Linked DNA regions of Homo sapiens. The protein of the gene in region 1 interacts with the protein of each later gene in a pairwise test. Each region holds a gene or a part of one and is shown on either strand. Other genes may lie near its edges.

Region 1 (3,500 bases):
CCCCTCCCGCCCCCACACAGGTATGTCCAGAGCCTCCTGGACATCATGGAGTTCCTGGACAAGGATCCCGAGGACCATCGCACCCTGAGCCAGTGAGTGGGGGCCCTGGGTGGGGCAGGAAGGCAGGTGTTGGCCAGGGGCATCTGGGGTTGCAGCCCCTGGGGCAGAAGTACAGCAGGATGGAAGAAAAGACCCCTGCCTTCAGAAACATCCAGTCTGAGTGGGGAGACAGACTCTGCTTCAGGGAGCCCCAAGTTTGATGGGAGAGACATGGACTCCATTCTCACTGTTCCCTGAGCCCGGTGGGCAAGACCCAGGCCCTGCCATGGGGAGGATGAGAACTCTGGGCTTTCGAGTGGGAAGCCTGCCGGCAGGCAGCTAAAAGATCAGAGTGGGCTTTGGGAGGAGCAGGGAGGGCACTGGGAGTCCATCGGATTGGGAAGGGTAGAGCGGGTGAAGACACCGTGGAGAGGGGAGTCAGAAGCGGAGAAGAGTCTGGGGGTGTCCCATGTGAACATCTGCCCTGCCCCACAGGTTCACTGACGCCCTGGTCACCATCCGGAACCGGCACAACGACGTGGTGCCCACCATGGCACAAGGCGTGCTTGAGTACAAGGACACCTACGGCGATGACCCCGTCTCCAACCAGAACATCCAGTACTTCCTGGACCGCTTCTACCTCAGCCGCATCTCCATCCGCATGCTCATCAACCAGCACAGTGGGTGCCGGCCACAGCGGCGGGGAGCGGGCGGTGGGGGGGGCGGTGCTGGGGCCCAGGGCCGGGCTGCTGAGGGGACCTAGACCACTCTTCAGAACCCCACAAAGGGAGTCTTTGAATAGTTACTCCAGTAACTATGGAGTTAATGGCTCCAACATGGAAAAATAAAATTTTTCTTTCTCATTGATTTTCCATTTCAAAACGTTTTGTTTTCAGTGTTTGCAAAATGTAAAATTATGTCACATCTTTAAAAGAATGTTTAATTTAGTATTTATAAAAACTCTCATTATGTTCAAAAACAATTTGTTGTTTAGAGTTTCTTATTCCAGGAGGATTCACTATGATTTTTGAGAAGTTGTAGCCAGTCATAAATTAAACAAGTTCCTCATGCTCAAATAATTTCCAAAGCAAGGTGGTAAGAGTTCTCTTAGAATGTTATAGTCAAAGAAAAGAATAAATGCAATGTGGAGATGTGATGTGGGGAGAGACCTCTGAAAAGACGTCTGTTTCAGGTTTGCAAAGGTTTAAAAACGGCCTAAGCCAGGGCTGGAGGGGTCAGGGGTCAGGGAAGGGAGGACAGAAGCGGGGGAGTGGGGCAGCTTTAGGACTGGAGCCTACAGAGGCATTGGAGGTGAAAGTAGAAAGAGGAGGAAAGCCCGGGGGAAGAGGGAGCGCTGGGACAGACTGCAGCCCAGCCAACAGCATCCTCCCTTCCTGCCTGCAGCCCTCATCTTTGATGGCAGCACCAACCCAGCCCATCCCAAACACATCGGCAGCATCGACCCCAACTGCAACGTCTCTGAGGTGGTCAAAGGTGAGCCATTCCCACGGTGCCTGGCCCGCAGAGAAGCCCCGGGGACCCCTCCAAGCTTACCTGGCCAGAGGGTGACTCGTTCCTCAGTAAGGGGTGCCATGGATTTAATGCTGGTGGTCCCCAGTATCAATGTCAGGAGGACTGCCTGCTGGGTGGGCCACCCATGCCCTGAATGACCCCATCTTCTCTCAGATGCCTACGACATGGCTAAGCTCCTGTGTGACAAGTATTACATGGCCTCACCTGACCTGGAGATCCAGGAGATCAATGGTGAGTGAGCGGGGCTGTGTATGTGTCTGTCTTGGGGCTGGGGACGTGGCAGGGCAAGGTGAGACGGGGAGTCAGGAGATGGACTGTTTTCTAGACAGGGGAGAAGCAGAGTTATTATATTATTAATTCATTTGATAAATATTTGGGCTGGGCACAGTGGCTCACACCTGTAATCTCAGCACTTTGGGAAGCTAAGGCAGGCCAATCACTTGAGGTCAGGAGTTTGAGACCGGCCTCGGCAACATGGTGAAACCCTGTCTCTACTAAAAATACAAAAATTAGCCGGGCATGATGGCACATGCTTATAATCCCAGCTACTTGGAAGGCTGAGACAGGAGAATCACTTGAACCCGGGAGGCTGAGACTGCCGTGAGCTGAGATGCTACCACTGCACTCCAGCCTGGGTGACAGAGCGAGACTTCATCTCAAACAAATAAGAAATTGAGTGAATGAATGAATGAAAGAGTAAGCAAGACAGAAATGGTCCCCATTCTCGTGGACCTTACATTTTTGGTGCTAGGGAGATTGCGGAATGGAGCCTTCAGCCAATTAACAAGTAAATAAACAAGACCATCTCAGATCATGACAAGTGATGGGAAGGAAATAAAATGGGGTAACTCAACAGGGGTAGGGAGGAGGGGCATGTTAGATGGTGTATCAGCTTGGCTGCTTTCCTAGAACCCCAATACCAGTGGCTTACTTAAGAGGGAGGTTTCCCTCTCGCCAGCCCCTTGCTGGACAGGTCAGGGCTGGCTCCCCACCCCTGATTCAGTTCTAGCCTGGAGGAAGGGAACAAGGGTGTGGAAAGCAGGGCCCAAGAATTGAATGCATCACTTCCATGAGTCACCAGCTACCCCAGCTCAAGGGAGGCTGGGGATTTAGTCTCTCGCTGGGCAGCCATGTACTCAGAACTTTGTGGGAGGGGGTGCCTCCTTTGGGTAAGGTGGTTGAGCAGTGACCTCCTGACGGTTTCCTGACCCTTGGTCTTGACTTGCCCTGTAGCAGCCAACTCCAAACAGCCGATTCACATGGTCTACGTCCCCTCCCACCTCTACCACATGCTCTTTGAGCTCTTCAAGGTGAGGAGGCTGGGAGCCGGTGCTTTGCGGGGAGCGTGAGTAGGGCTGGCTTCTCCCATGCATCTCTTACCTCTGCCCCTCCGCAGAATGCCATGAGGGCGACTGTGGAAAGCCATGAGTCCAGCCTCATTCTCCCACCCATCAAGGTCATGGTGGCCTTGGGTGAGGAAGATCTGTCCATCAAGGTATGTGACCCTTTGACCTTGGGGACCAGGGAGCAGTAGTGGGGGCTTCCCTCCTGCCAGGAGACGGGCTTTCCTTTTCTCCTACATGGTGGGCAGATCCTGGGGGTGGGGAAGACCATGAGAAGGTCAGGGGTATTGGGCGGGGTGGGGAAAATGAGCTGTAAAGAATCCCTGACACATCCCATCTCTCCCAGATGAGTGACCGAGGTGGGGGTGTTCCCTTGAGGAAGATTGAGCGACTCTTCAGCTACATGTACTCCACAGCACCCACCCCCCAGCCTGGCACCGGGGGAACGCCGCTGGTGAGATGGCTTCACCCCAGCCCCTCCCACCTCCTGAGGGAGGCTTCTCTCCTCACTCACTTCCTTATCTCCCTGCTCACTCAGCTTCTGTGTGGCCGTCTGTGACAGTCACCTGTCTTGAATCTGGGCCC
Region 2 (4,678 bases), on another chromosome or scaffold:
AGCGAGGGAGGAGGACCCTCCCCCGACCCGCAGCCCAGGCGGCGGCCGGTCCCGGCGCCCCCGCCCAGATCCCTGCGCCGCCCGGCCCGCGTGCTTGTCTCTGGGTCTCTGCATCTTCGCGTCCCGGGGCGCCCCGTCCACGCCTCCTCCCGGACCCCCGCCTCCCCCGCCCGTCTCTGTCTCTAGCGGGGGTCTCAGCCCTCGTCTGTCGCTGCGGGTCTCCTCGCATCTCGGCGTCTCTCTCCGCGTCTCTCTCCGTCCCGGCGCCTGTGTCCCGGGCTGTCCCCAGCTCCGAGCCTCAGTTCCCTGCGCGCCTCCATTTCCCTCCTTCCCCCGCCCGGTCTCCGTCACCCCTCTGTCTCCACATCCCGCTTGTCTCTCCTTCCTGGCTCCACGTCTCTTTCTCTGTCCCAGGTTTGCTGTCGTCTGATCTCTGTCTGAGTGTCTGTGTCTCCACTCGCCCCCGACCCGGCCCCCCGAGCCCCCTCCCGGGTCCCCCACTCCCATTCAGGCCCGGGTTGGTGGGGTGGGGGGGCGCTGCGGCGGGAGCTGTGTGTTCCCAGCGCAAAATAGACTCTCGTTGCCATGGCGACGCGCGCGGGGCCTCGGAGACGCGAGGCTTCGGGCTTGGGGGGTGAGGAGGGGGGACACCTGGATCCGGAAGGCGGGGGCCGGGGGCGCCGCCGCCCGGTCCCAGGGGCTCCTCCTAGATCCCTGGGGAGAGGGATGCTGGGCGCTCCGACGCTGGGGGCCAGGGGACCGGACCTTCTGGGAGGGGTCTGGGCTCCCAGGGTCGGCGGTGGGGGCTCCGATTGCCCAACGCGGGGCGGGCTGACTGACAGCTCTGACGCCGGTGTCTCTGAGGACTCAGGGGTGGCCTCTCAGGTCTCCAAGGTTGGGGAAGAGGCAAGGGCTGCAAATCTGGAACGGAGGAGCTCTCCCTGGGGGTCTGCAGATTCCAACTCCTAGATCTGCAGAATTCTGGGAGCCCCCATGTGGGTCCCGGAACTCCTGCGTCTGGGGGAGCCGGGACTACAATGCTTTCAGCCCTTCCTTCCATCCGTCCATCCATCCTTCCATCCATCCATCCACCCATCCACATGGCTGTGTCTTCCTTCCTCCCGTCTCCATGTCCCCTTGCCTCAGTTTCCCTTCCGCACCTGGGTGCGGTCTCGCTCACCTCGCTTTCCGGATGCGGGACCCTTGGGGAGCCGGGGGTGGCGGCGTGGGGGGCGGCCGGAGGCGGCGGCGGAGCGCGTGTCTGCCGGCAGCTGGGCTGGGCGTGCGCGCGCCGGCTGGGGGCGACCCCGGCCGCAGTTCTCCTCCGAGCAGATGCGCCGCGTCCGTGCAGATGTGTCAGCCGCCAGCCCTCGCCTTTGCCTCGCGCCGAGAAGAGGCACCTCCCCCCCCCCACCTGCTGGGGACCCCGCTTTCTCCCTCCTGCAGCCCCCAGTCGCCCCCGGGATCCCCCCCAACCCAAGAATGGTTTGGTCCACAGCCACATATATGTTTATTCTGCGAGTCCGTGTCCCACAGTCTGAGACTCTTCTTCCCCTCCCCTTCCCGCCCCGTGAAGTGGCCCGGGGCCGAGCCCCGCCTCCATCTTGGCTCAGCCAATTCCCACCCAGTTTCCAGGAGTCTCATTTGCATTTCCGGGAGCAGCTGTCCAATGGGAAGGCAGCACCCTGCCCCCCCCACAAGGGGGCGGCACTCCTGGTGGATCGCACCACTCTTGGGATCCAGGGATGGGGGGAACGGGCTTCCACTGAGGTCCGGGTGACAGGAGGGTGGTCTTCCCTCAAGGCAGGGTTGGAGTTCAGTGGAGGAGGGAGTTCTGGCCTTGGAAGAGGCCCAGCAGTCCGCTGTCTGGGGCGGGCTCCTTGATGAGTTTCTGGATCTGTAAGGGCAGGGGGCGATGGGTCAGGAAGCGTCTAGGGTCCCGATCTCCATGGATGACAAATCTGAGGGACACCTCTCCGTCTTCATCTCTCGGACCTTCTGGCTAGCAGCTGCCCAAGACAACACTCCCTCTTCTCAAGACTTTTCCTGGGGCCTCCCTTTCATTACACGTGACTGGTTGAGCTCCTCACTGCCTGCCATCTTGGTGTGCTTTGCGGGCTTGGACCACTAAGGGTGGACAGCTCTGTGCTGGGGCTTCCTGTCTACACCTTCCTCTTCTTAAGTAACCTCATTTCTCCCATCCCTCTTCTGGGCCCTCAGCTCACAAATCCAGCCTGGACTTTGCCCCTGAACTCGACTCATCTATCTAACTGCCTCTTAGATAGACATGAGCAACCAACCGCATTTCATCCATCAGCAAGTCCCAGCAAGTTTATCTCCAGAAAATAAAATAAATAAATAAATAAATAAACAACAACAACAACAAAAAAGCCTGCATCCCCCCTGCCTCATCACCGCTTGCCTGGGCGCCCAAATTAACCTCCTTACTGACAGGTCTCCCTCCTCCCCTCTATGCCACACTCCCTAATCCACTGGTCACACAGGGCCAGAAAGAACTTTGTAAACTGCCGATCTGATATGGCCAGCTCCCCTGCATCAAACCCTGATGGCTGCCCGTGGCTGAAATCTCAAACCTCTGGGCTCTGACTCCTGCGTGAAGACAGGCTGCTGGCTCCTCCCGCGTGGTGCTCACCCTGGCCTGCTACAGCTCCTCAAAGAAAGCTCAGTCCCCCTCCCCTGGGAACACTGTGAGTGCCTGATGCCCCCTTCCCCGGCAGCTCAGAATTCAGGGCCACCTCTGCCACTCTTGCTCATCCCTCTGCAACTCCTGCCCCAGCTGGGGGTCACAATGTGTCACTGAACATGGATTGCTGCAGACTCCAGGGCTCACCACAGTGGCTGGCACAGAGTGGGTGCTCGGTGAATGTCCCACAGAGCTGAACTAGAAGGAAGGTAAGGAGCAGACCTGGGAGGGCCTGGGAATGTCAAGGTCTGGGGCCTCTCCAGCATCCTGAGGGCCAATGGCTTGAAGCAGGGGGGCCCAGTACCTGGCTGACCCCGGTAGCAGGGTGGCCAGTGGAGTCTGAGAAACTGGAGGAGGGGCACCCGGGCCGGAAGGGGCAGAGGCGGAGGAGATGGAGAGTTGGAGATGGGTGTGGACGGGTCAAGGGGCTTCTATCTAGAGGGTCTCTGCTGACCTGTTCTTCCCCAGTGTCCGCCTGGTCACTCCCTCCTTCAGTTCATTCTAAAGTCACCTGCTCCAGGATGCCCCCCAGACCCTCCAATACAAACCCCCTCCTCTGTGCCCTGACCCTCTGGATTGCCTCCCCCATTTTATTGTTCTCTGTGGCCCTTATGGTCCATCTGTGGGCTCCTTTCATGGATTTATGGCAGTGACAGTGACCAGCAGCCTCCCCTCCAAGAACCTGGCTCCCCCTGGAGGCGGCAGCCTGCTGGTGCCGAGATGTATTCTCAGAGCCCAAAGACAAGACCTTTGACAGATGCAGGGGAGGTGGGGGCGGCCAGGCGGGCATTACCTCCTTGAACTGGGGGTGGACGGCATCGCCCACAAGCTGCAGAATGAGCCCTTCGCTGGTGGAGAGGAAGGCACCACTCTGTCTCATGCGGGCCAGAGCCACCAGCCGGTCCACCTGGCTGTGAGTGGGAGGGAGGGAGGGAAGGTTGGTGTGGACGCCGCAGTCTGGACACCCAGACACGCAGGCACCCTGGTGGGAATGCCGCCTGTGGCCCTTCCTGGGAGCCCCTGATGGCCCCCACGTGCACCCACCCAGGCAGGGGCCCTCTCACCTGCGTGAGGAGCAGGCGTCCACCACCACATGGACCTGCAGCCCCCGGTCTAGGAGGTCCAGGGTCGTGTTCTGTGGGTAGAGAGAGGTCAGGGCCAACCCCGGATAAGAACGGGGGTCCTGGGTAAGGAATTGGGGATGGTGAGTCAGAATTAGGGGCCCAGAATGGGGAGGAGGGAGGCTCGGATCAGAGGAAGGGGCCCCCAGGTCAGGAGGGGATCCAAGATAGGATGGGGCCCACAGGTGAGGAGAGAGGGCCCAGGTCAGGATGGGGGTCCTGCAGGGAAGTGGAGGTTTCTGGTCAGGGAAGGAGGTTCTATTTAGGATGGGGGTCCCAGGTTAGAACGAGGGACCCCTGGGGTCAGTCAGCATCTCACCAAGATGCAGGCCTGTGCCTCAATGCCACAGAGCAGCACAGAGCGCAGCTGGGGCCGACTGTCCAGCTCCTGCTGCAGGGCAGGCACCATGCTGAAGCAGGTCTTGGCCAGCGGCCGAAGGCCCTCAGTCCCCAGCTCGGGCACCGTGGGGCCCAGGCCTTGTGGGTACTGCTCCGTCAGCATGACTGGCACCTCAAGCAGCCGGGCCACCTGTGCCAGTGATGGGGAAGAAAGGTCAGGGTCTGAGGGAGGAGGGGCTGGGCCTGGACTCCTGGGTCTGAGGGAGGAGGGGCTGGGCCTGGACTCCTGGGTCTGAGGGAGGAGGGGCTGGGGGTCTGGACTCCTGGGTGTGAGGGAGGAGGGGCTATGCCTGGACTCCTGAGTCTGAGGGAGGAGGAGCTGGGCCTGGACTCCTGCGTCTGAGGGAAGAGGAAGTGGGCCTGGATCCCTGGGTCTGAAGGAAGAGGAGTTGGGCCTGGACGCCTGGGTCTGAGGGTGGAGGGCTGAGCCTGGATCCTGGGTCTGAGGGTGGAG

The links. The genes of interacting proteins can lie anywhere in the genome.
Region 2: the proteins of PDK2 (region 1) and ISOC2 interact in a two-hybrid assay, tested with the Homo sapiens proteins (one large-scale study listed by IntAct).

Annotation. Positions count from the first base shown.
Region 1 is NC_000017.11:50,105,351-50,108,850, forward strand, and holds part of PDK2 (pyruvate dehydrogenase kinase, isozyme 2 isoform 1 precursor), read left to right. Parts: intron 1-20; coding exon 21-92; intron 93-534; coding exon 535-719; coding exon of another isoform or gene 720-802; exon of another isoform or gene 803-1,021; intron 1,022-1,443; coding exon 1,444-1,533; intron 1,534-1,725; coding exon 1,726-1,803; intron 1,804-2,805; coding exon 2,806-2,882; intron 2,883-2,968; coding exon 2,969-3,067; intron 3,068-3,261; coding exon 3,262-3,369; intron 3,370-3,500. UniProt on the Homo sapiens protein: Kinase that plays a key role in the regulation of glucose and fatty acid metabolism and homeostasis via phosphorylation of the pyruvate dehydrogenase subunits PDHA1 and PDHA2.
Region 2 is NC_000019.10:55,451,492-55,456,169, forward strand, and holds the end of ISOC2 (isochorismatase domain-containing protein 2), read right to left. Parts: intron 4,355-4,678; coding exon 4,145-4,354; intron 3,888-4,144; coding exon of another isoform or gene 3,840-3,887; coding exon 3,769-3,839; intron 3,616-3,768; coding exon 3,498-3,615; intron 1,898-3,497; coding exon 1,817-1,897; 3' UTR 1,494-1,816; downstream 1-1,493.